3 separate regions of the Homo sapiens genome follow, and all the other regions are linked to region 3. The links come from fine-mapping of genetic effects on plasma protein levels. Region 3 holds a variant in brackets. A gene starts in each other region. All regions are shown on their forward strands. Distances are between the middles of the regions.

Region 1 (8,285 bases), 41 Mb after region 3:
CCTGGGTCAAGCAATCCTCCCACCTTAGCCTCCGAGTAGCTGGGACTACAGGCACATGCCACCACGCCCAGATAATTTTTTAATTCCTTGTAGAGAGGGGGTCTTGCTTGGTAACCCAGGCTGGTCTCTGACTCCTGGCTTCAAGTGATCTTCCTGGAGTGCTGGGATTACAGGTGTGAGAAACCATGCCTAGCCTCTAGTGTCTTTTTTTTAAGGTTGACAATTTACATTTCCAATAGTCACTCACGTAATTTTAAATTTTCTAGTAGCCACATTTTAAAAAGTAAAAAGAAACAGGTAACAATCAATCTTAATGATGTTTTTATTTAACTCTATATAAAAATTATCATTTCAACAATAAATATAACATTATTGAGAAACTTTAGTATTTTTGTATTAAGTTTTTGTAATTCAGTGTGTATTCTAAATTATGGCATAACTCAATTTGGACTAGCAGCATTTTTTTTTTTTTTTTTGAGATGGAGTGTTGCTCTGTCGCCCAGGCTGGAGTGCAGTGGCACCATTTCCGCTCACTGCAAGCTCCATCTCCTGGGTTCACGCCATTCTCCTGCCTCAGCCTCCCGAGTAGCTGGGACTACAGGTGCACACCACCACGCCTGGCTAATTTTTTGTATTTTTAGTAGAGACAGGGTTTCACCTTGTTAGCCGGGATGGTCTCGATCTCCTGACCTCATGATCCGCCTGCCTCGGCCTCCCAAAGTGCTGGGATTACAGGCGTGAGCCACCGCGCCCGGCCTGAACTAGCAGCATTTTAAGTGCTCAGTGGCAACGTGGTAGGTGGCCACCATGCTGTGCAGTACAGGTAGACTCTCATGTCTAGATCCACTTGCTGGATGATCTTATCTGTGTCAAAGTTCCAATTCCCATCTATTAGTTGATGACTCAAATTTTTATATCTGCTCCAACTATTCTTTTGATCTCCAGTTCCTTATAGTTATCCACCTTCTTCACAGCTCCACTTTAATGCCCCAAGACACCTCAGACTCAGCATGTCTCACATCTAACTCATAATCTTCCCTTTCAAATCTGAAATGTTTTTCTATCTCTGTTATTTACATTACATTACCAGTCAATCCAGTTTCACCAGCACACACCGAAGGGGATTCCTTGATATCTTCTTCTCTCTCAAATCCCTTATACAATTCATCACCAAGTCTTGCCCATTTTATCTCCCACATATCTCTTAAATCTATTCATTTTTTTGGTCATACCCATCATCATTCCCTTTCAAGCCACTATAACCTATTGACTGTAATAGCCTCTAAACTGATCTCCCTGCTTTCATTCTGGCCACCCTCAACTCTACTCTGTACACTGCAGCCATGGTGATCTTTTCAAAAATCTAATCATGTTAATTGCAACTCTCATCAGGTTAACTGTCTCCTCACCATTAAAATACTTAAGGGGGCTGGACACAGTGGCTCATGCCTATAATCCCAGCACTTTGGGAGGCTGAGGAGGGCGGATCACCTGAGGCCAGGAGTTTGAGACCAGCCTGGCCAACATGGTGAAACCCCGTCTCTACTAAAAATACAAAAATTAACTGGGTGTGGTGGCGCGTACCTGTAGTCCCAGCTACTCGGGAGGCTGAGGTGGAAGAATTGCTTGAATCCGGGAGGCGGAGGTTGCAGTGAGCCGAGATCATACCACTGCACTCCAGCCTGGGCGACAGAGCAAGACTCCATCTCAGAAAAAAATAAAAAATAAAAATAAAATACTTAAGGGAGGTAGGTGGATCACCTGAAGTCAGGAGTTTGAGACCAGCCTGACCAACATGGTGAAACCCTGTCTCTACCAAAATATACAAAAATTAGCTGGGTGTGGTGGCATGTGCCTGTAGTCCCAGCTACTTGGGAGACTGAGGTGGGATAATTGCTTGAACCCAGGAGGTAGAGGTTGCAGTGAGCTGACATCACGCCACTGCATTCCAGCCTGAGCAACAGAATGAGACCCTGTCTGAAAAATAAATAAAAAAAGTAAAATAAAATACTTAAGAGTTTTATATTGTTCTTAGGACAAAGTATAAAGCCCTTAGTATGATCTAAAAGGCTCTGTCAGCTCTCCTACCCTTTCCTTCCTGCAAGGCTCTTACCTTTCTAGTCTCATCTCATCACACTCACTCCCTTCTCCACCTCTTTGCATTCCAGCCATTCTGGATGTTTTTTAGTTCTTTAAATGTGTTATACTCCCTACTGTTTTACAGATGAGAAAATCAAGGCTCAAAAATATATGGGCTGTCCAGAGTCACAAAATTATAGCCAAATGACCATTCTAGTATTAGAATCCATGTCTCCTCTTAAATACCTCTTAAATTTTTCTTTACCTTCCCTTTGCCAAGAATACTCTGCCAGGCGCAATGGCTCATGCCTGTAATCCCAACACTTTGGGAGGTTGAGGCAGGTGGATCACCTGAGGTCAGGAGTTTGAGACCAGCCTGGCCAACATGGTAAAACCCCGTCTCTACAAAAATTAGCTGGGTGTGGTGGTGGGCGCCTGTAATCCCAGCTACTTGGGAGGCTGAGGTAGGAGAATCGCTTGAACCTGGGAGGCGGAGGTTGCAGTGAGCTAAGATCAGGCCACTGCACTCCAACCTGGGTGATAGAACGAGACTCCGTCTCAAAAAAAAAAAAATACTCTCTCTAAACCTTTCCCCTCCCCTTTGCCTATTTATCCTTCAGATCTCAGCCTAATTGCTACTTCCTCAGGAAACTCTACCAGGCCATCCTACCTAGGCAAGTCCCTTTGTAATATGCTCTCATAGCAGCAGTTGTAAATTTGCTTTTATTAGCATCATTGCTTGATGTCTATTTTTGTTAACTGGCTCTATGATGACAAGGATCATCTCTGTTTTTGCTCTCTAAATATTGCCAGATCTAGGTTTATAGTAGGCATTGAACGAATGGATGGATGAGTGAATAAGTGAATATGTCAGCCAAGCAAAGAGCAGCCCAGATAAAAGTAACAGTGAGTTTGAAATGCTCCAAGGTCAGAAAGAGCTTTGAGAGCTGGAGCTATAATAGTAAGAGAGTGGAGACATTGGAGAAGTAGATATGGCTGGGTCTTGCCGGGCATTTTAAAGGATTTTGGACACATGGAAGCTACTTCTATTTTTATTTTTGTGGTATTATGTTTGGTTTACCAACTTTTTATTTTTTATTTTATTTACTTTTTTGGGGGGGATGGAGTCTCGCTCTGTCGCCCAGGCTGGAGTGCAGTGGCGCAATCTCAGCTCACTGCAACCTCCCCCGGGGTTCAAGCGATTGTCCTGCCTCAGCCTCCCTAGTAGCTGGGACTACAGGCGCCTGCCACCACGCCCGGCTAATTTTTGTATTTTTAGTGGAGACGGGGTTTCACCATATTGGCCAGGCTGGTCTCGAACTCCTGACCTTGTGATCTGCCCACCTCGCCCTCCCAAAGTGCTGGGATTACAGGCGTGAGCCACAGCGCCCGGCCGGTTTACCAACTTTTATATTGCCAGCAATCAACTAGGGAAAACAATTTAAAATCTAAATAGGGATAGATTTAAAGAGATAAAGATCTGTACAAGAATAAGAGGAACAGTTTTTATTACTATTGGATAGGTGCTGCCTGAAGCTTTAAGACAGAGAATGTACATTTATGCAGCTGCAGTCAGAGCCTGTGTGAGGTTTACTGTAAACTCACTGGCAATAAGGCTCTTAACGACATTTTGATGCCCATGAAGCTTGGTGCCTAGTTTAAAACTAATGAAAACACCTAAACTCTCCAGGTGGACAAAGCCATATTCAGGAGAAATTGAGAAGGAGTTGGTGCAGGCAGCCAATCACAATCCACTTACGCCACAAACTAAATCTCAAACTGCGGTTTGAACATGAGGCTCAAAACATAAGAAGTAAAGAAATGGGCAAAATTCAATTAGTTTCTGGTGAAACGTCCTAAATCCAAAAGAAAGGTGACCAGAAATAGAGAAAACGGAGTGTGATCTTTTGCATTAATGAGAGAGACCGTGTCCCCGTGTGTTAAAACCTGTCATTCTTGTCCTGAATTGGAAAGTGAGCGGAGTGTGACGGGTTCCCATCTTGAACCGTCCGGGGTTGAGTAGTACAATAAACTAACACGGAACTCCAGCTTCCAAAATTCTCTCCAGTGCCTACAGAGCCTCGCGGAGAGCTGTGATTGTGAATGTCAACGCAGATTTGATTAAATCTCTTAGATTTAAGAGATATGTGGAGTCATGACAATAGAAATGTGTACAAGTGAACACATTTCTTAGCCCGTTTCCCCACTGCCTGTGTGATTTATAAAAACGCAAATATAAAATATTTCCGTTCCAGCAGAGACGCCGCTTGCTACGGCGGGTTGCCCGTCTCCACAGGTATCTCCGGCTGACTCTAGAGCTCAACTTCCCCTTTAAACTTCACCCTGCGCTTGCCGATTTGCTTCGGGAATGCCCGAGGCACCGGACGAAGCAGTCGGGTCTGGCCCCAGTCGACTCCAGCCAGGCGGGGCTCCAAGCCGAGACTCCTGCACGCCCGGCCCGAAGCTAGCCCGACACCCTCAGCTGAGTCCTCCGCCGTCCCAGCATTCCCTGCGTCCCTACCATCGAGAGCAGCTTCCGGCGTGGCTGGTGTAGGCGGGTGGAGAAGGATCGGGGCCCTCGCCGCTCTGTCTCATTCCCTCGCGCTCTCTCGGGCAACATGGCGGGTGTGGAGGAGGTAGCGGCCTCCGGGAGCCACCTGAATGGCGACCTGGATCCAGACGACAGGGAAGAAGGAGCTGCCTCTACGGCTGAGGAAGCAGCCAAGAAAAAAAGACGAAAGAAGAAGAAGAGCAAAGGGCCTTCTGCAGGTAAAGAGAGTTTTATGTTTTCCCAGTCCCCTCCGGGAACGGCTGAACTGTTTGGCTCAGGCCCGTTGAGGGGGCCGGGACCGGGGCCCCAGAGCCCCGACTAGACTGATTCTTGGGCCTGACAGGGTGGCAAAGCCGGGCTATAGATTCCTAGTCTGAGAAGAGGCGTCATCTCCTCCTGTGGGACTAGAGGGCTGGTGGGGGAGAAAAGAGTGCCTGAGGTTGGCGTGTGGTACCTCTGGGGTCGCTGGGCCCGAGCCCCTGTATTACCAGAACTCAGCTCCCACGCACATCGTGGCACGGTCTTGAGATTGTGCGCAGAGCACAGCCCTACCATCTTTCGCGCGATTTGGCCGCCGCCTCAAAAATCCGATTCTGATCCGTATTGCCGCGTCTTTGCTGGTTTGCTGGAGCAAGCTAGGACTTATTTTCTTTGGGGGTGGGCAAATGTAATGGAGAGCACACCTCCTCCCACTATCCCGTTTCACGTTGGGGTTGTTGCAGCCTGCACTTTTGGGGTGTGTGTACATGTGTGTTTGCCCGCGCGCTCATGTCATTAATTGCAGAATTTGTGGTGGTGATAACGAATTTTCACCTGCCTAATCCCATAGCATCGCCAAGCTTTAGGGCCTTTAGACCTGAATTATGATACCAATTGCAGGCAGTGCAGATAGGATATTCTGTGGCTCAGAATGGAACTTCTGAGGTCTTAACCTCTAAATCCACTGGTAAGGCAAGGAGAACTGCTGAGAGTTTACAGTTGGATATTATGAACTAGGAACTTACATATTTTGAGAAGTCTGTGTTTTTGCTGCACAAGCTCCTTCACCTTAATAAAAATTATTTTTACTTGTTTCTAATTAAAATCGCCAGAGAAACAGAAAATGGAGAAGTCAGAAGCGATTAAGATGGAATTGAGAGAGGTCGAAGAGAGCTAATCTTCATCTTTCTGAAATTTTGATTAGATAGGAATGGAAGGAGAGTTGTAGCGTTGCTGGAACTCTTCCAGAGCAAAATTTGTTACTCTGGTGGCTGTTCCTGGATTTCGAGTGAAATTCAAACACTGCTGTTTGTCTTGTAAGGTGTTAAGCTGACTGATCCTAATGTATTTTTAACAGTTGTATTTCTTAATATGAATTCTCTCCAGTAGCCAGAATGTCACTTCATTTCGTGCTACCTGATACTATTAATGCATGTAACATATTGCTCTTATAGGTAGGTTATAATCACTTCCAGAGCAGGGGCCTGGTCTTGTGCTTAGATATTTGAGCGTTTTAGTTTTTTAGTAATGGACTGTCTTTGCCTATTTATTTTGACTTTACCCAGCCCATCGTGATATCCTTATTCATGAAACCAGGCTGCCCCGGGGTGTTGCACATGAATCTTTTTCCTAAGGCCTTCAGCATTTATTACCTATCTGGTGTTTAAGTATTTGTTAAGTCTAATTGCTGACCACTATTACAAGTTAAACTACTTGAGGATAGAGACCAGTTCACGCTGTTTATCTTTTAGCTGCTAGTGTGTGTAATGGATATTTTGTTGAGTAAATTAATGAATGGACAATACTGTGTAGGTATGGAAGATTTTTCTGTCATTAAACGAATTCTGTTATGTTCACAATAATGTTTCTGTTTTTGTTTCCTGAGGAAAGGATTTGTAAGTTTTCCAAGATCATTAGAGCATATTCTAGTGGGAAAGTGTCTGTATTAGATTTGATTTCTGCTATTTTATTTTGATCAGCAGGGGAACAGGAACCTGATAAAGAATCAGGAGCCTCAGTGGATGAAGTAGCAAGACAGTTGGAAAGATCAGCATTGGAAGATAAAGAAAGAGATGAAGATGATGAAGGTAAATGGTTAATTTGATCTTTGTGGTTAGAAAAGCTAGAAAATGTAGCCGGGTGTGGTGGCACACACCTGTAATCCCAGCACTTTGGGAGGTCGAGGCGGGTGGATTACATAAGGTCAGTAGTTCGAGACCAGCCTGGCCAACATGTTGAAACCCCATCTCTTCTAAAAAGACAAAAAAAAATTTAGCCGGGTGTGGTAGCACACACCTGTAATCCCAACAACTTGGGAAGCTGAGGCAGGAGAATTGCTTGAGCCCGAGAGATGGAGGTTGCAGTGAGCTGAGATTGCACCACTGCACTCCAGCCTGGCCAGCAGAGTAAGACTGTCTCAAAAAAAAGAAAGAAAGAAAGAAAGAAAGAAAAGCTAGAAAATGTGATATTCCTTAATCAAAATTTATTTACTCGTATAGTGTTTTCTCTGACATTTCACTTGTTACCTCAATTAATGTCACAGATTAAAAAGGAAAAGGTATTTATTAGCAAGTCTTGAAAAAGTTCAATGTGTTAATTAGCTGTTCAGATAGGACAGATCTCAGAGTTTAAAAATATACTTGGTAGAAGGCAAAGTAGTGAGTATTAATAAGATTGAGGGGTTGTTTATTTAACTAATACTTACTGAAGAACTACTATGTACTAGATACTTTCCTAGGTTATTTTCACATACATTCACATTTTAACCTCACAAAACCAAGCAAAGTAACCTACTTGTGCTTAGATATCCATTTTGTTTTTTGGTAATGGACTGTCTTTTCCTATTTATTTTGACTTTACCCAGCCCTTCATGGCTTTACCCAGCCATCTCATTTTACAGATAGGGAAGTGGTAGTTACATGATTTACCCAAAGTGACATAGCTAATATGTGTAGAATAGAGCCAGAATTTCAAACCTAGTGCCTGACTGCACGTTTGTTCCTTTTACTCTCTATTTTTTTTTTTCTTTTTGAGACCGAGTCTCGCTCTGTCGCACAGGCTGGAGTGCAGTGGCGTGATCTCGGATCACTGCGACCTCCCGAGCTCAAGCAATTCTCCTGCCTCAGCCTCCCGAGTAGCTGGGATTACAGGCGCCTGCCACCATGCCCAACTAATTTTTTTGTATCTTTAGTAGAAATGGGGTTTTGCCAGGTTGGTCTTGAACTCCTGACCTCAAGTAATCTGCCCACCTCAGCCTCCCAAGGTGCTGGGATTACAGGTTTGAGCTACTGTGTCCGGCCTGTTCCTTTTACTCTCTATACCAAAATTAACTCTTTTCATTCTGAAAGAATCGTATAGGAGTGCACTAAGTTTTATTATAAATTCCTTGACCCTAGCTCCTTCTGGGTGTTTGGGTACAATAAGATTTTTTTAAAGACAGCAACTGCTAATTGATGTTATCAGTAAAACAGTGAAGGAAGAGACAGGTAAGAAAACTTAACTTTTTTCCAGCCTCTTTTGGCGGAGGAAAAATGGGGCTTTCCCATTCTTTTTATTTGTAGCTGCCTACTACTGAGAACATCTGCTCCCCCTCAAGCACCACCAGCCTGGGGTTAGGTCTTTAACCATTAGTTGGGGCTGTAATTATTGTGTTAGGGTAATGTAGAGTAGTTGTTTT
Region 2 (8,252 bases), not on the chromosome of region 3:
ACAAAAAAACTGATCCTCCCTGAGTAAGAAAGAATCTCTCCTGCCTTCTGATCTTTTGACTGGGACATCAGCTTGTTTCTTGCCTTCAGACTCAGATTGAAACACTGACTCTTCCTGGATTTCAAGCCTGCTAGCCTCTGGTCAGGAACTATGCCATCAGTTCTCCTGGGTCTCCAGCTTGCTGGCTCATCCTGTAGACTTGCCAGCCTCAGTGATCTTGTGAGTCAGTTCCTTATATGAATCTCCTTATATATATACCCGTATACATACATATATCGTATTGGTTCTGTTTCTTTGGTAAACCCTAATACAATATTTATATTTCTTTGTTTTTTTTTTTAGACAGGGTCCCACTCTATCTCCCAGGTGGGAGTGCAGTGGCGAGATCATGGCTCACTGCAGCCTCAACCTCCCAGGCTCAAGTGATCCTCCCACCTCAGCCTCCTGAGTAACTGGGACTACAGGCCATGCCATCACGCTTGGCTAATTTTTGTATTTTGTGTAGAGAGGGGTTTTGCCATGTTACCCAGGCTGGTTTTGAACTCCTGAGTTCAAGCAATCTGCCCACCTCACCCTCCCGAAGTGTTGGGATTACAGGTGTGAGCCACCGCCCCGGCCAATATTTATATTTCTCAGACGCATCCTCTTTTTTCCATGTTCACTTGTGCAATTTTAGTTGATGTCCTTCTTCTTTCCTGGACTATTGGAATAATTTCCTTGTTCCAGTGTCAGTACATCCAATTCACCCATCCCCTCCTTGCTTCTGGAGTGCTCTTTCTAAATACAAATAGGCTAATGACATTTTGCTTTTAAACTTGTTTAGCACGCTATTTCACACCTTCAAGATGAAAGTCAAATTCATTAGATTGGTGGATAAAGTCCTTCCCAATCCAGTCATTTCTTCATCTCCAGCCACGCCACACTACCTGCCACTTCTTGCACAGAGCAATCTGCCTTAGCCTCTTGGTCTTGCACTCTTGTATGTTCGGGTACTTCTGCCTGGAATGCCTCTTTCTTATTCAATCAGGAAACTCTCATAACAGGTGTGTGTGTCTGACATTAAGTGTCACCTCCTTAGCATACATCTTGGATTTACCTCCCTGAAATCCAGGGGTGAAGGAGTCAGGGGTCTTTTTCTATTCATTGCCTTCAATTGAGCATACTTGCAGGGTGTGTTAATTCCTTGGCACTTTAGGTCTTCCCAAAATGCAGGCAGAGCAGGCTCTGGTGGACAAAGATAGCTGATAATGCAAATAACTTCAGGTGCCGGCAGTTGGAAGTTGGCCCAATGTGCAGAATGTTCTGTTCAGGGGCATGTGGGCTTGGCCTAACAGATCTGTTATAGCCCTAATATCATACTGTTGTTGGTTTTTCAATCAATGCACAAAGTTGGAAAGATATAGAGCTGACCCTGAACAACAGGGGTCTGAACCAGTGTGGGTCTACTTATATGCAAATTGTTTTCAATATATACAGTTGGCCCTCCATATCAGTGGGTTCCACAACTGAAACCAAGAATAGGTGGAAAATACAGTATTCTTGGGATGCGAATGGTCATATCCACAGGTTCCACAGGGCCAACTGTGGGATTTGAGTGTATGTGGATTTTGGTGTATACGAGAGGTCCTGGAACCAATCCCCCATGGATACCAAGGGATGTCTGTAATTTTATTTACAAAAAGAATGCAAATTCTTGACAGACTAAAAATGAGAATGAAACTAACAAAATTAGGAGGGGGAGGGGAAAAGACGAGAAAGTAAGAATGTACCAATTCCTCACCTCTCCTAGTAGGGAGCCAATATACAGTGTGTAAAATTTATAAATAATGATTTAGGTAAACAACCTAAAGTCATGAAAGCTTCTAGCAAAACTAAAAGTAATACAATTTTTTAAATTAGGAGTTAAGAATAAGTTTTTGTCCCTTTGAAGGATTTTCAGCTGGTGAGTCAAGATGTATATGTACAGTATTTAAGGTTATAATGAAAAGAACCAGAAGAACTAAAACCAGAAATTGTTAATTGCAGTTGGGTCTAGGATATGGTAACAGATAAGGTAGGTGGGTAGGTAGGTAGAGTAGCAGGGAGACCCTTACTTTTCTTTTAATATGTTCCCCCCTTTTGTTTGGATTTTTAACGATTATTATGCATTATTTCCATAACAAACAAATGTAAATAAAGTGTAGTTTAACTACAAAAAGTAACTTTTAGAACACCCTTAACAAATATTTTGTAGGAGTCAAATGAGGTAGGATCTATACGGTATGCATGAACATCAAAAAATGATCAGGACTTCTTAAGTCAAGTTAGTAAACTAAAAGATAATAGGCATAGGATCCAAATTACAGAGAGGGAGGAAGTATGTGTGTGTATGTAACATATCTATGTACAGTTGACCCTTAAGCAACATGAGGTTAGGGGCACAGACCCTCACAGTCAAAATTCCATCCCCCAAAACTGTAGTAACAGCCTACTGTTGATCGGAAGTCTTACCAACAACATAAACAATTAACACTTTTTTTTTTTTGAGATGGAGTCTTGCTCTGTCACCCAGGCAAGGAGTGCAGTGGTGCAATCTCGGCTCACTGCAACCTCCGCCTCCTGGGTTCAAGAGATTCTCCTGCCTCAGCCTCCCGAGTAGGTGCGATTACAGGCACGCACCATCATGTCTGGCTAATTTTTATCTTTTTAATAGAGACGGGGTTTCGCCATGTTGGCCAGGCTGGTCTCAAACCCCTGGTCTCAAGTGATCCGTCTGCCTCAGCCTCCCAAAGTGTTGGGATTACAGATGTGAGCCACCGCACTCGACAATTTTGTATGTTACATATGTTATATACTGTATTCTTATAATAAAGTAAGCTAAAGAAAACGTTTTAAGGAAATCATGAGGAGAAAATATATTTACTCTCCATTAAGTGTAAGTGAATCATCATAAATGTCTCCGTCCTCATAATTTTCACCTTGAATAGGCTGAGAAGCGGGGGTTGGCTTTGCTGTCTCAGGGGTGGCAGAAGTAGAAGAGGTGGAAGAGGAGGCAGGAGAGGGAGGCACAATAAGTGTAATCTGATGGAGATACATCATAATTTGTCTGACTTTTTTGCTTTTCCATTTCTCTAAACATGTTTCCATTTAGCACCAATTCTTCTTCCACCATTTGCTTTAGATTCAGTGCCTGTTTCATAGAAAAGTCCATGTTATAAGAGAAGTCAAAAGCCATATTGAATAAGTGGAACCCTTCTGCCAGATTGTCTAATGTCAATTTGTTTTCTGGCACTGCTTCGTCTTCTTCCTCATCGTCTGGCACTGGGTTCAGAAGGAGTCATCTCCATCAAGTGGTCTTCTGTTAATTCCTCTGGTGTGGTGTCTCTTAGCTCTTGAATTTCTCCAAGATTTGTATCTTGAAACCTTTTTTGCCATATCTGCAATCTCTTTCATGATTTCCTTGATTGGCTCTGTCATAAATCCTGTGAAGTGATGCACAACATCTGGAGTTCCTCCAGCAGGAATTTGTTTGGGCTTGATGGCTTTTCATGGTTTTTTCTGAAACAACAATGGCATCTTCAATGGTGTAATCCTTTCAGACGTTCATGATATTCTCTCAATTGGGGTTCTCTTCCACAGAGTACTGTGTGTAATGATCCTTAAAGTCCTTATGACTCCCTTATCTAGAGGTTGAATTAGAGGTGTTGTGTTTAGGCGCATGTAGACCATTTCAATGTGTTTGTATTGAACTCATGGGGTTCTGGGTGGCCAGGGGCATTGTCCAATATCAAAAGAACATTAAAGGCAATCCCTTACTGGCAAGGTACTTCCCGACTTTAAAAACAAAGCATTTATATAACTGATCCAGAAAAAGAGTTGCTGCTCAGCCATCTTGCTGTACAACCAAAAGAGTGGCAGGCAGTGTTTCTTTTCCCTTCAAGGCTCAATTTTATAGATAAGGGCAGTCCTGATCATACATCTGGCTGCATTTGCACAAAACAGTACAGTTAGCCCATCCCTTCCCGCCTTGGATCCTGATGTTCACTTCTCTTCCTAATAAATATCCTCTGTGGCACTATTTTCCCCCAGAATAGGGCATTTTCGTTTGCCTTAAAAACCTGTTCAGGCAGATATCTTTTCTCCTCAGTGATTTTCTCTATTTTTTTTTATTTTTATTTTTTATTTATTTTTTTTTGAGAGAGTCTCATTCTGTCTCCCAGGCTGGAGTGCAGTGGTGCAATCTCACTGTAACCTCTGCCTCCTGGGTTCAAGCGATTCTCATGCCTTAGCCTCCTCAGTAGCTGGGATTATAGATGTGCACCACCACACCTGGCTAAATTTTGTATTTTTAGAAGAGACAGGGTTTTGCCATGTTGGCCAGGCTGGTCTCGAACTCCTGGCTTCAAGCAATCCACCCACCTCAGCCTTCCAAAGTGCTGGGATTACAGGCATGAGCCACAAAGCCTGGCCTTTTGTCCTCAATAATTTCCTTAATGGTATCTGGGAACTCGTCGGCTGCATCTGGGTCAGCAGAAGCTGCTTCTCCTGTTATCTTGACATTTTTTGAAAGCCAACCCACTTTTTAAAATTATCATACCTTCCTTCATCTTCCTTTTGCTTTGTCAGATAATGACTTCACTTTTTCTTGAATATTAGATTATATAGGTATGCCTTTCTCATAGCAATCCTGCACCCACAAAAAGCTGCATTTGCAATATGAGATAAAAAGGTATTTCCCAAAAAGTGCAAGGTTTTCATGCTTGTTGGTGTAGCTGCAGCGATGGCTTCATAAACTTCCTTTTGTTTTTATACCACAGTCCTTATACTGGATTCATTTATCTTAAAATGGCAGGCGACCTTAGCTGCAGACCTCAATCTACAATACACAGCAAGCAATTCCGCTTTTTCTGTAATGTCATTAACTTTTCTCTGATTCTTGGGAGCATTTCCAGCACCACTAGCGGCACTTCGTAATGGTCCCATGGTGTTACGCAAGGTTTACAGTACTGCAGTGAACACAACGAGAAATATGTGAGAACCTCAAGAGCTTACCTTTTACTGTGATATGCAATGTACTGGAGAGATCAACTGCTCACTCAGAGATGATTATGTTACTTGGAATTTTTAGCCAATACCAGCAACACTGACGCTCACTGCAATAGCAACAGGAGGTGGCTACAAAATCATTACAGTAGTACTCTATGTACTACAGTGAATTTGATGCAGTTATTATTTAATATTGCATCTTTACAACTGTTTACACCTCTCTTGAACCTAATGGGTGCCATGTAACTGTCTGTTTGTACGTGTAAGTTTTGATAAATTTTAACTTTTTATAACAGGCTTGTATATATTTTATGATAGTAAATAATAAAATGGCCTAGTATCTACATATATTTTATGCATTCATGACATATCTAGCTTTTTCTTTTCTTTTTTTTTCCATATTTCTTGGCTAAGCGACTCATCTGTGAGGTTTTTCACAAAATTGTTGCCATCGCCAAAAATATTCCATTTACTGAAAAAAATCCACATATAAGTGTACTCACGCAGTTCAAACTAATGTTGTTCAAGAGTCAACTGTATAAAAGGTATTAATATGTCTGGAAAGAGATATGTTTCCAATTTAACAGACACTACCAATGAGAAGAGTTGGGCTAGGCAGGAAACTTCAAATTTTCCTTTTTTACTTTATATATTCTATTTGTATCTCAACTTATAACCTGTGGACCACGTTTATTAGAAGAAAATGCAGATTCCTGAAACTTCCTGCAGACCCCATGAGTGACAATCTCAGGGAGATGGAGTTCCAGAATCTGCTTTTTTTCATAGATGTTTCTTTGCCATTCCTGTGTATATCTGAGTTTCAGTAGCACTGCTAATCAATTGTTTGGGGTTCTCTCTCCTTCACCAGCATGTTCTTGCAAAACTAACCAAACACATATAAAGCGCAAACAGTACAATAGTGCACTGCACCTTCATGACCCTTACCTGTTCCAGCCTCTTCCTACCTCTTCCACATGTGATATGTGTGTACATACCCACAGACAGAAACACAGAGACATGTTTGGAAGCCAGTGTGGATGCCCTGTGATCTGTGTGTACACATGACAAGTGCATACACACGCACATAAAGGAACCCAGAGACGTGTTTGGAAGCCAGTGTGGACACCCTGTGATCTGTGCGTACACATTTGACACCTGCGTACACACTCACAGACAGAAACACAGAGATGTGTTTGGAAGCCAGTGTGGACATCCTGTGGTCTGCGCGTACACATGTGACAGGTACGTGCACGCCCACATACAGGAACACACAGAGGCCTTTGGAAGCCAGCATGGGCAGACAGGCCCTATCCCAAAGCGGCCGGCAGGCGTCTCCTAAGAATGGTTCTCGGACACACCTCTGAAAGGAAAATACAACTCGGCACCGCAGTTGACTCGGCCAAAGGAAAAAAACTTAAGCTGAAAGCTGAGGCCTGCCCGAAGGAGCCTTTCCTGTGGCGCCTGAGCCGAGGGCTTCAGGGAGAGGGCCGCGCATCGCAGCGCAGCCGCCCGTCTTCCCGTGGCTTCCCTACGGCCGCGGCTCCCGCTGCTCCTTTCCGCCGGCCACGCGGGTCGCACGACCTTCCCCTCCCGCCCACCCTGAGGCGCTGAAGCCCTCGACGCCGGCCTCGGGAAAGGCGCGGCCACCGCCCGTTTCGGATTCCCGTTTCCTTCCTCCGGGCGCGTCCTTCACCGTGGCCAAATCAGCCTCTCAACTGCTGGAGCCCGGCCTCGGACACTTCTCGGCTTACGCCGCCATACAGTGGCGCACCCCGAAACCCCGGAACCGACAGCTCGGCTGGCCTTGCGCACCCACACTCTCCAAGGCAGGGCTCGGTCCGGGGGCTGGTTTTGCCAAGGCGAGGGGCGAGGGGCAGCCCAGGCGGCCGGATGGATACCAAGAGGGCGCGTCAGCTCCGGCGGGACGGGGCTTCCAGGGCCCGGGAGGGGTCCAGGACTCCCCGCCGGCGCCTGGCTGTCGGCGGAGGGCCGCGGGGCAGGAGGGAGTGGAGACTGCGGCCCCAGTTCGGGCAGCGCGGAGCCCACCCAACGCCCTCCTCGGCCCTCGGCTCTTCCTGGGGCCATCCCGCCCCTGCACCTCGGCCTGGCACCTTTCCGGTTAGCCTCGGAGGCCGTGGCCGAGCAGGGTGCGTTCGCCTGGCTGGGGGGCCTCAGAACGTTATTTCCGGGTGACAACCTGCAGGGCCTTCCGCCCCTCGCGACCTCTCGGGAGTCCCTTCCCCGGCGCCCCCCCGGGGCTGCAGGGGCTGCAGGTTCGGTCTCGGGGCCTCCTTACCGCAGTCCGCCCGGCTTTAGGCTAGTGGGCTTTAACTACGTCGATAATATGACTCCGGCGATCTTGTGCGGCGATGGGATGCGGCCGTGGGCGGTGGAGTCCAGGCGGAGTCCGCTCTCCACACGCGAGGGCGCCTCCTCCTCACCGCTCGCCGGCTTCAAAGCTCGCGCCTCAGGCGACGGCAGCCAACGGGTTGCCGGCTGGAGGCCCCGCCGACGCCCCGCCCCTTGCGTGCCCACCCGCGCCCCGCAGCCCCGCCCCCAGCGCCGACCCTAAGTTTCGGCGCTCAGTGGTCCGGCGCTCCCCAAGGCTCGGTGTCCAGCGTCAACCCCGAGGTCTCTATGCCCCGCCTCCCGACGCCAGGGGGCAGGGCCAGCGCGCTGCGCGTCGGGGCGGGGCTTTGGCTGCGTCGGCCGCGTAGCCCGCGCGCGGAGCGTACCCTGCTGCGGCCGTTGGCCGTTAGCGCGGCTTCGGCGGTTGTCTTGGAGAAGCAAGATGGCGGCGACGGCGGCCGCAGTGGTGGCCGAGGAGGACACGGAGCTGCGGGACCTGCTGGTGCAGACGCTGGAGAACAGCGGGGTCCTGAACCGCATCAAGGTGAGGCCGGAGGCTGGGGCCGGGCCTGGCGGATCCGCAGGGCTTGCGTGGACAGCGGGCGTCACAACGGTCGCGGCGAGGAGGCCGCCTCCCTGGCGAGGGACCGGGGCCGGCGGGCACTGGGGGCGCGCCCCGGCATGGCCTCCGTCCTGCCCGCCCCACAGAGGGGGTCGGCTCGTTCGTTCGTGTGGTCCCGGAGGGCACCGCGGACTGGGGGTGCCTGGCCCATCCCCTGCCTCATTCCGTGGGGGCGGGACCGCGGGGCTTGGGGGCCACACGGGCGGCCCGCAGCTGGGCCCTGGAGTGCGGCCCCAGCGTCTCTTCCTCAGGCTCG
Region 3 (5,998 bases):
TGAACCTGGGAGGCGGAGGTTGCAGTGAGCCGAGGGCCATTGCACTCCAGCCTGGGCAAAAAGTGAAACTCTGTCTTAAAAAACAAACAAAACTGAATTCTGTATCGGTTTAGATCTTTAAATCTTTGTTCATAGGTTTTATTTTTCCTAATCCTCTCTGGATTCACTTTCAGAGTGCTTCTCCAGTGCTTTACAGACTAGACTTCTAATTCTGTACTTTGTCTTACCTTAATATTTTAAAACCATAACCAAATCCTAAATTCTAAGCCTCATTAAAAAATCAGGCCATCCAAAGTGCACAAGGATATGAGTATGTATGGAGGAGGAAACTATGCAGAATATGTCAATGACTTTAAAGGTTGATGTTGCTCCTTGGCCTTTGCTTCCTGAATCATCTTAATGGGGCTTTTGTTAAATTCCTTTGGCCCTAACAGTAGAGGTACTTGGCCTAAATGCCCCCCTCCCCCTGCTCTGGGCAAAGGTATCAATTACATTAAGCCCCTAAAGCACTCCCATCTCGTTCCTGGCAGTCCCCTGTGCCCCTCTCCCAGCTGCGTCCTTGCTGGTGCCTGGCCCCCTCCATTTTGTTAGGAGAAGCAATCTCCTCATTCCTGCGCTGTGGAGATATATTTCTCAGCTAGGGCGCGAGCAGTGCCAGCACTGCCCCCGGTGAGGTCCCTGGCAGCAATAAAAATTTTTATTGTGATTATGTTGGTGTCGGGGTGTCCATCTGGGTTATTGCACACCTAGTTTAATTGATTGAAGTTTAATTTATTGACACTTCAAATTAAATGATCAGAATAAACTGTGCTGTTACTCTGGCCAGCTTGTTTTAATGGTTGATTGCTGGAAGCAGACCTCGGCTTGAACTAAAACCCCCAAAGAGCAATTGACGCTGCTTCTAACTCTCCCCATGTCTTGCCCTCCAAGAAGACCTTGTTATAGATTTCCGACGTATTTATATATATTTTTTCCCTCTTCTTCACAGTGGTGGGAAAGAGTTGGTCCCTGGCAAGGTATAAATTATATCAAAGATCTAGGGGAGCTGTCACATGGTCAGAAGAGGAGGAGGGGGCCTCCATGTGAGGAAAACCAGACCCTTGAGAAGCCAGGTCTGCCTTGGGAGGCAGAGGATGAGTGCAATTATCCAGGTATTTGACGGAGCCTAGTGGCAGGTTTAGGGTCTTTTTTATCTAGATACTTGCTGCTGTTTCTTACTTTACTCCATTGACATGGCTTGATTAGAGTCTGGATGTTGACAAGAAAACAGGTTGTGGAAAGGGAAACTAGAGGAGCAAATCAGATGGAGCAGGGATAAAGAATCAGTACCTATGTACCCACTTGTGCTGGAGTAATTAGGAAGAGGAAAGGCAGAGTGCCCAGGGGACAGCTGATGAAGATGGATTCAGAGAATGAGTCCATGCACTTGTAAGATGCTTGTGCTGGCAAGGGCCCTCTCACATTCTGTCCCTCCTGTTTTTGGGCAGAATAGGTTTCCTTACATCAGATTATTAGGGGGATCTCTCCTGGCCTTACATTCCCTAGCCTGTGTCACCTCTTCTGGTGTTTGACCACACCCATCTCTTCAGGAAGTCCTTCCTGTTGTGTAATCTAAGTTATATATGCTGCAGATGAAGCCTGCTTTTTTATTTGGCTTTTTATTTTCACACTCTTTTTTTTTTTTTTTTTTTTTTTTGAGACAGAGTCTTGCTCTTGTTGCCCAGGCTAGAGTGCAATGGCATGATCTTGGCTCACCGCAACCTTTGCCTTCCAGGTTCAAGCGATTCTCCTTCCTCCGCCTCCCGAGTAGTTGGGATTACAGGCCCCCACCACCATGCCTGGCTAATTTTTGTATTTTTAGTAGAGACGGGGTTTCGCCATGTTGGCCAAGCTGGCCTCGAACTCCTGACCTTGTGATCCACATGCCTTGGCCTCCCAAAGTGCTGGGATTACAGGTGTGAGCCACTGCGCCCGGCCTATTTTCTCACTCTCAATGCAGATATCCCATCCATAGCCAATTGCCCTGGATAGCTCGGTCAACTAATTTTCTGCAACTCCTTTTCTGTTGTGTGGTTTTAGAGGGAGACTAAAACCAGAGGAGAATAGAGCAATTCTGCCTCGGGGTTGATTTGGGGGCATAAATAGACTGAAAGATAACACAGAGTCTGTCAATTCAGTCTCTCAGAGACTAGCTTTTTGTTTTCAGGAGCAAAAGCAGGGAGATGTGGGGGGGAGTAAAGGGATAAATCATGATACAAATCGTGACCCAGGACTCATCAGGAATGGATCTAGCCCCTTTTGATTTTTTTCCTTTGCTGAGTGTTATTTAAGTGAGGGCTCCTGGATTACCAAACTGAGAAGGCAGAATGTTCTAATGGTGCTCTCAGGCCTCAGGTCTGGAGTATAGTCTGATTTCTCCTTATTCAGTTCATCTCTCTTCCCAGCAGTACTGCTTTGTCCCTCATTTCTGTGATTCTTTCACTTCCATGATAGTTGAAGAATTAGGGACTATGTGACCCCTGGGTAAAAAATCCTCCAGCAAGGCCGGGCGCGGTGGCTCACGCCTGTAATCCAGCACTTTGGGAGGCCGAGGCGGGCGGATCACGAGGTCAGGAGTTTGAGACCAGCCTGACCAACATGGTGAAACCCGTCTCTACCAAAAATACAAAAATTAGCCGGTCATGGTGTCACGCGCCTGTAATCCCAGCTACTCAGGAGGCTGAGGCAGGAGAATGGCGTGAACCCGGGAGGCGGAGGTTGCAGTGAGCCACTGCACTCCAGCTTGGGCGACAGAGTGAGACTCCGTCTCAAAAAAAAAAAATTTTCCAACAGACAGGCTTTCTGAGTTTTGAGAAAGGTCCTGAGACTTTGCATTCCTAAAAAGCTTAGGGTTTGGTTGTCTTTGTCCTGCCCATTTCACAGTCATCAAATTCAGCCATTGAAAGCTGGAGGTGGCTGGGCATGGTAGCTCACGCGTGTAATCCCAGCACTTTGGGAGGCTGAGGCAGGCGGATCACCTGAGGTCAGGAGTTCGAGACCAGCCTTACCAACATGGCAAAGCCCTGTCTACTAAAAACACAAAATTAGCCAGGTGTGGTGGTGGGTGCCTGTAATGCCAGCTATTTGAGAGGCTGAGGCAGGAGAATCGCTTGAACCTGGGAGGTGGAGGTTGCAGTGAGCTGAGATTGC[A/G]CCATTGCACTCCAGCCTGGGCAACAAGAATGAAACTCAGTCTTAAAAAAAAAAAGGGAAAAAAAAAAAGAAAGCTGGAGGGAGCGTGGTTGCTGACCTTTATTCCCCCTGCTGGCTGTTAGTTTTCTCAATCATATTTATTAATTTATGAAGGCCACACACACATTTATTGAATTTATCCAGCATTACTGGATGCCAGGTAGAGTAGAGGGGGTGGTTTACAAAAGTATCACTCATTTCCCCTCTTTTTCCTGCCCCCTCCACACCATCTTATTATCTCCAGAGAGAATCTCATTTAATTCTAAACTCGGCTCTGTGAACTCTTTGAAATCATAAAAAAATTATTTTTATTTATATATATATTTTTTGAGACAGAGTCTTGCTCTGTCATCCAGGCTGGAGTGCAGTGGTGCGATGATCTTGGCTCACTGCAATCTCCATCTCCGGGGTTTAAGCAATTCTCATGCCTCAGCCTCCTGAATAGCTGGGATTACAGGCATGCACCACCATGCCCAGCTAATTTTTTTGTATTTTTAGTAGAGACAGGGTTTCGCCATGTTGCCCAGGCTGGCCTCAAACTCCTGAGCTCAAGCTATTTGTCCCCACATTGGCCTCCCAAAGTGCTGGTATTACAGGTAGGAACCAGCATGCCTAGCCATGAAATCATAAAAAAATTTGTGAATGTATTTTGCTGGGAATAAGGTCCATAGATGTAATTGGTTTATCAAAGGGGTCTGCTGTAACTCAAAAAAGGCATTAACCTTAACTGATCTAGGTCAAGCCTCTCATTTCTCTGATGAAGAAGCTGAATCTCAGAGAAAGGGAAAATTTGAGTTAATGGCTGATCCCCATTATAGTACAAGTATTGTAGCCAGGCATGGTGGTGCATGCCTGTAGTCCTAGCTATTTGGAAGGCTGAGGCAGGACTCCTTGAGCCCAGGAGTTCAGGTCCAGCCTGGGCAACATAGCAAGACCCTGTCTCTATTTAAGAGATGGATTGTAGGAGTTTAGAGACATTTTCTCCTGTAATATCAAAACTCTTGTTGACTGTGCTTTACATGTTTTGGGTCTGTGTCAGATAGGAAGATTGTAGGTGTCTCTTCCTGCCGTCAGTTCTTCCCGAGTCATGTGTTGAGTTTTTTCTTTATAACCAATATTTGGTCTCATGTCAGCTGGGTAGTGTTCTGTGGTACCAGTGGCTCCCACTCTTTCCTGAGCTGTGCTTTTTGAATCTAATCTTGTGTGTATACAGAAATAATTAGCAGGGTGTGGTGGCATGTACCTGTAGTCAGCTACTTGGGAGGCTGAACGGGGAGGATCGCTTGAGCCTGGGAGGTTGAGGCTGCAGTGAGCTGTGATGGCACCACTGCACTCCAGCCTGGGTGACAAGAAATAATAATAATATTAATAAATCTGATATAGGCTGGGCGTGGTGGCTCATGCCTGTAATCCTAGCACTTTGGGAGGTCAAGGTGGGCAGATCACCTGAGGTCAGGAGTTCGAGACCAGCTTGGCCAACATGGCGAAACCCCGTCTCTACAAAAAACACAAAAATAAGCCAGGCTACAAAAAACACAAAAATAAGCCGGGCGTGGTGGGAAGCGCCTGTAATCCCAGCTGCCTGAGAGGCTGAGGCAGGAGAATTGCTGGAACCCGAGAGGCAGAGGCTGCAGTGAGCCAAGATCACGCCACTGCACTTCAGCCTGGGCAACAGAGCAACACTGTCTCAAAAAAAAAAATCTGATATGTAAAAACTGCTCTTCCCTGTCAAAGACTTTAGCTAATTCTTCTTTTCTTTTCATCTGAAGTCTATCGGATTGTGGCTGGCAAATTGGAGCCCTTAACCCCAGAGGAGCTTTTAATTTTAAAAAAGTTGGCACAGGCTGGGCACGGTGGCTCATGCCTGTAATCCCAGCACTTTGGGAGGATGAGGCGGGTGGATCATGAGGTCAGGATATCTAGACCATCCTGGCTAACACGGTGAAACCCCGTCTCTACTAAAAAAAATACAAAAGAATTAGCTGGTCGTAGTGGTGGGTGCCTGTAGTCCCAGCCACTCGGGAGGCTGAGGCAGGAGAATGGCGTGAACCCGGGAGGCAGAGCTTGCAGCGAGCCGAGATCAGACCACTGCACTTCAGCCTGGGCGACAGGGTGAGACTCCGTCTCAAAAAAATAAAAAAATAAATAAAAGTTGGCACAGAGGCCAGGTGCAGTGGCTCACACCTGTAATATTAGCATGTTGGGAGGCCGAGACAGGCAGATTGCCTGAGTTCAGGAGTTCAGGACCAGCCTGGGCAAGATGGTGAAACTCCATCTCTACTAAAATAAAAAAAATCAGCTGGGCATGGTGGCAGTCACCTGTAATCCCAGCTACTGAGGAGGCTGAGACACGAGAATTGCTGGAACCCAGGAGGCGGAGGTTGCAGTGAGCCAAGATTGTGCCACTGCACCCCAGCCTGGACAACAAAGTGAAACAAAGTGAAACTCTGTCAAAAAAAAAAAAAAAAAAGTGTTGGCACAGAGTCAGGAAGTATACCTACTTAGCCATTTGGAGCTGGGAGTGGTATCTAGGAATTTCTCCTTCTAGTTTTTACCTTCTTAGTTTTACTTTATAAACAGGATTGAGACAAGAGAATCTTGTTACAGTTTTTAATTCACCAAGACCCATTGCCACATCAGGGTAATGCCACATCAGGCCCTTTTGGTATGGCCTTAGGGAATGTTTTTTTTTTTTTTGATCTGAAGTCTTGCTCTGTCGCCCAGGCTGGAGTGCAGTGGTGCGATCTCAGCTCACCGCAACCTCTGCCTC

Which allele goes with the higher level. Positions count from the first base shown, and alleles are read on the strand shown. Strength reflects both the effect of a copy and how common the allele is.
For the plasma level of the protein whose gene starts at base 4,670 in region 1, allele G in region 3 goes with a higher level than allele A (weak association).
With allele G in place of A in region 3, the plasma level of the protein whose gene starts at base 7,801 in region 2 is higher (weak association).

What was found. PIP is the posterior inclusion probability: the model's chance that the variant is causal. Protein levels are from antibody-based Olink assays in UK Biobank. Linkage for the fine-mapping came from a reference panel and not from the study's own genotypes, which makes the PIPs less certain.
Region 1: it holds the start of METAP2, and the variant in region 3 is fine-mapped to the plasma level of the METAP2 protein (UK Biobank, PIP 0.98).
Region 2: it holds the start of CEP43, and the variant in region 3 is fine-mapped to the plasma level of the CEP43 protein (UK Biobank, PIP 0.95).

What each region holds. Positions count from the first base shown.
Region 1 is chr12:95,469,483-95,477,767 of GRCh38, forward strand. It overlaps METAP2 (methionyl aminopeptidase 2), which reads left to right and starts at 4,670. Exons shown (of 11, transcript NM_006838.4): 1 at 4,670-4,848; 2 at 6,589-6,696. The coding sequence starts at 4,698. RefSeq lists an enhancer at 4,487-4,886.
Region 2 is chr6:166,991,597-166,999,848 of GRCh38, forward strand. It overlaps CEP43 (centrosomal protein 43), which reads left to right and starts at 7,801. Exons shown (of 13, transcript NM_007045.4): 1 at 7,801-7,918. The coding sequence starts at 7,817. MIR3939 (microRNA 3939) reads right to left here and starts at 6,316; the gene lies at 6,211-6,316. RefSeq lists an enhancer at 6,283-6,332 and silencers at 6,873-7,102, 7,393-7,912, 8,003-8,162, 8,173-8,252.
Region 3 is chr12:54,329,502-54,335,499 of GRCh38, forward strand. All of the region lies in intron 1 of COPZ1 (coat protein complex I subunit zeta 1), which reads left to right. Among named protein-coding and RNA genes, the nearest start is that of MIR148B, 4.7 kb to the right of the region's middle. RefSeq lists enhancers at 1-380, 381-1,070. The variant A/G (reference allele first, on the strand shown) is at 3,190.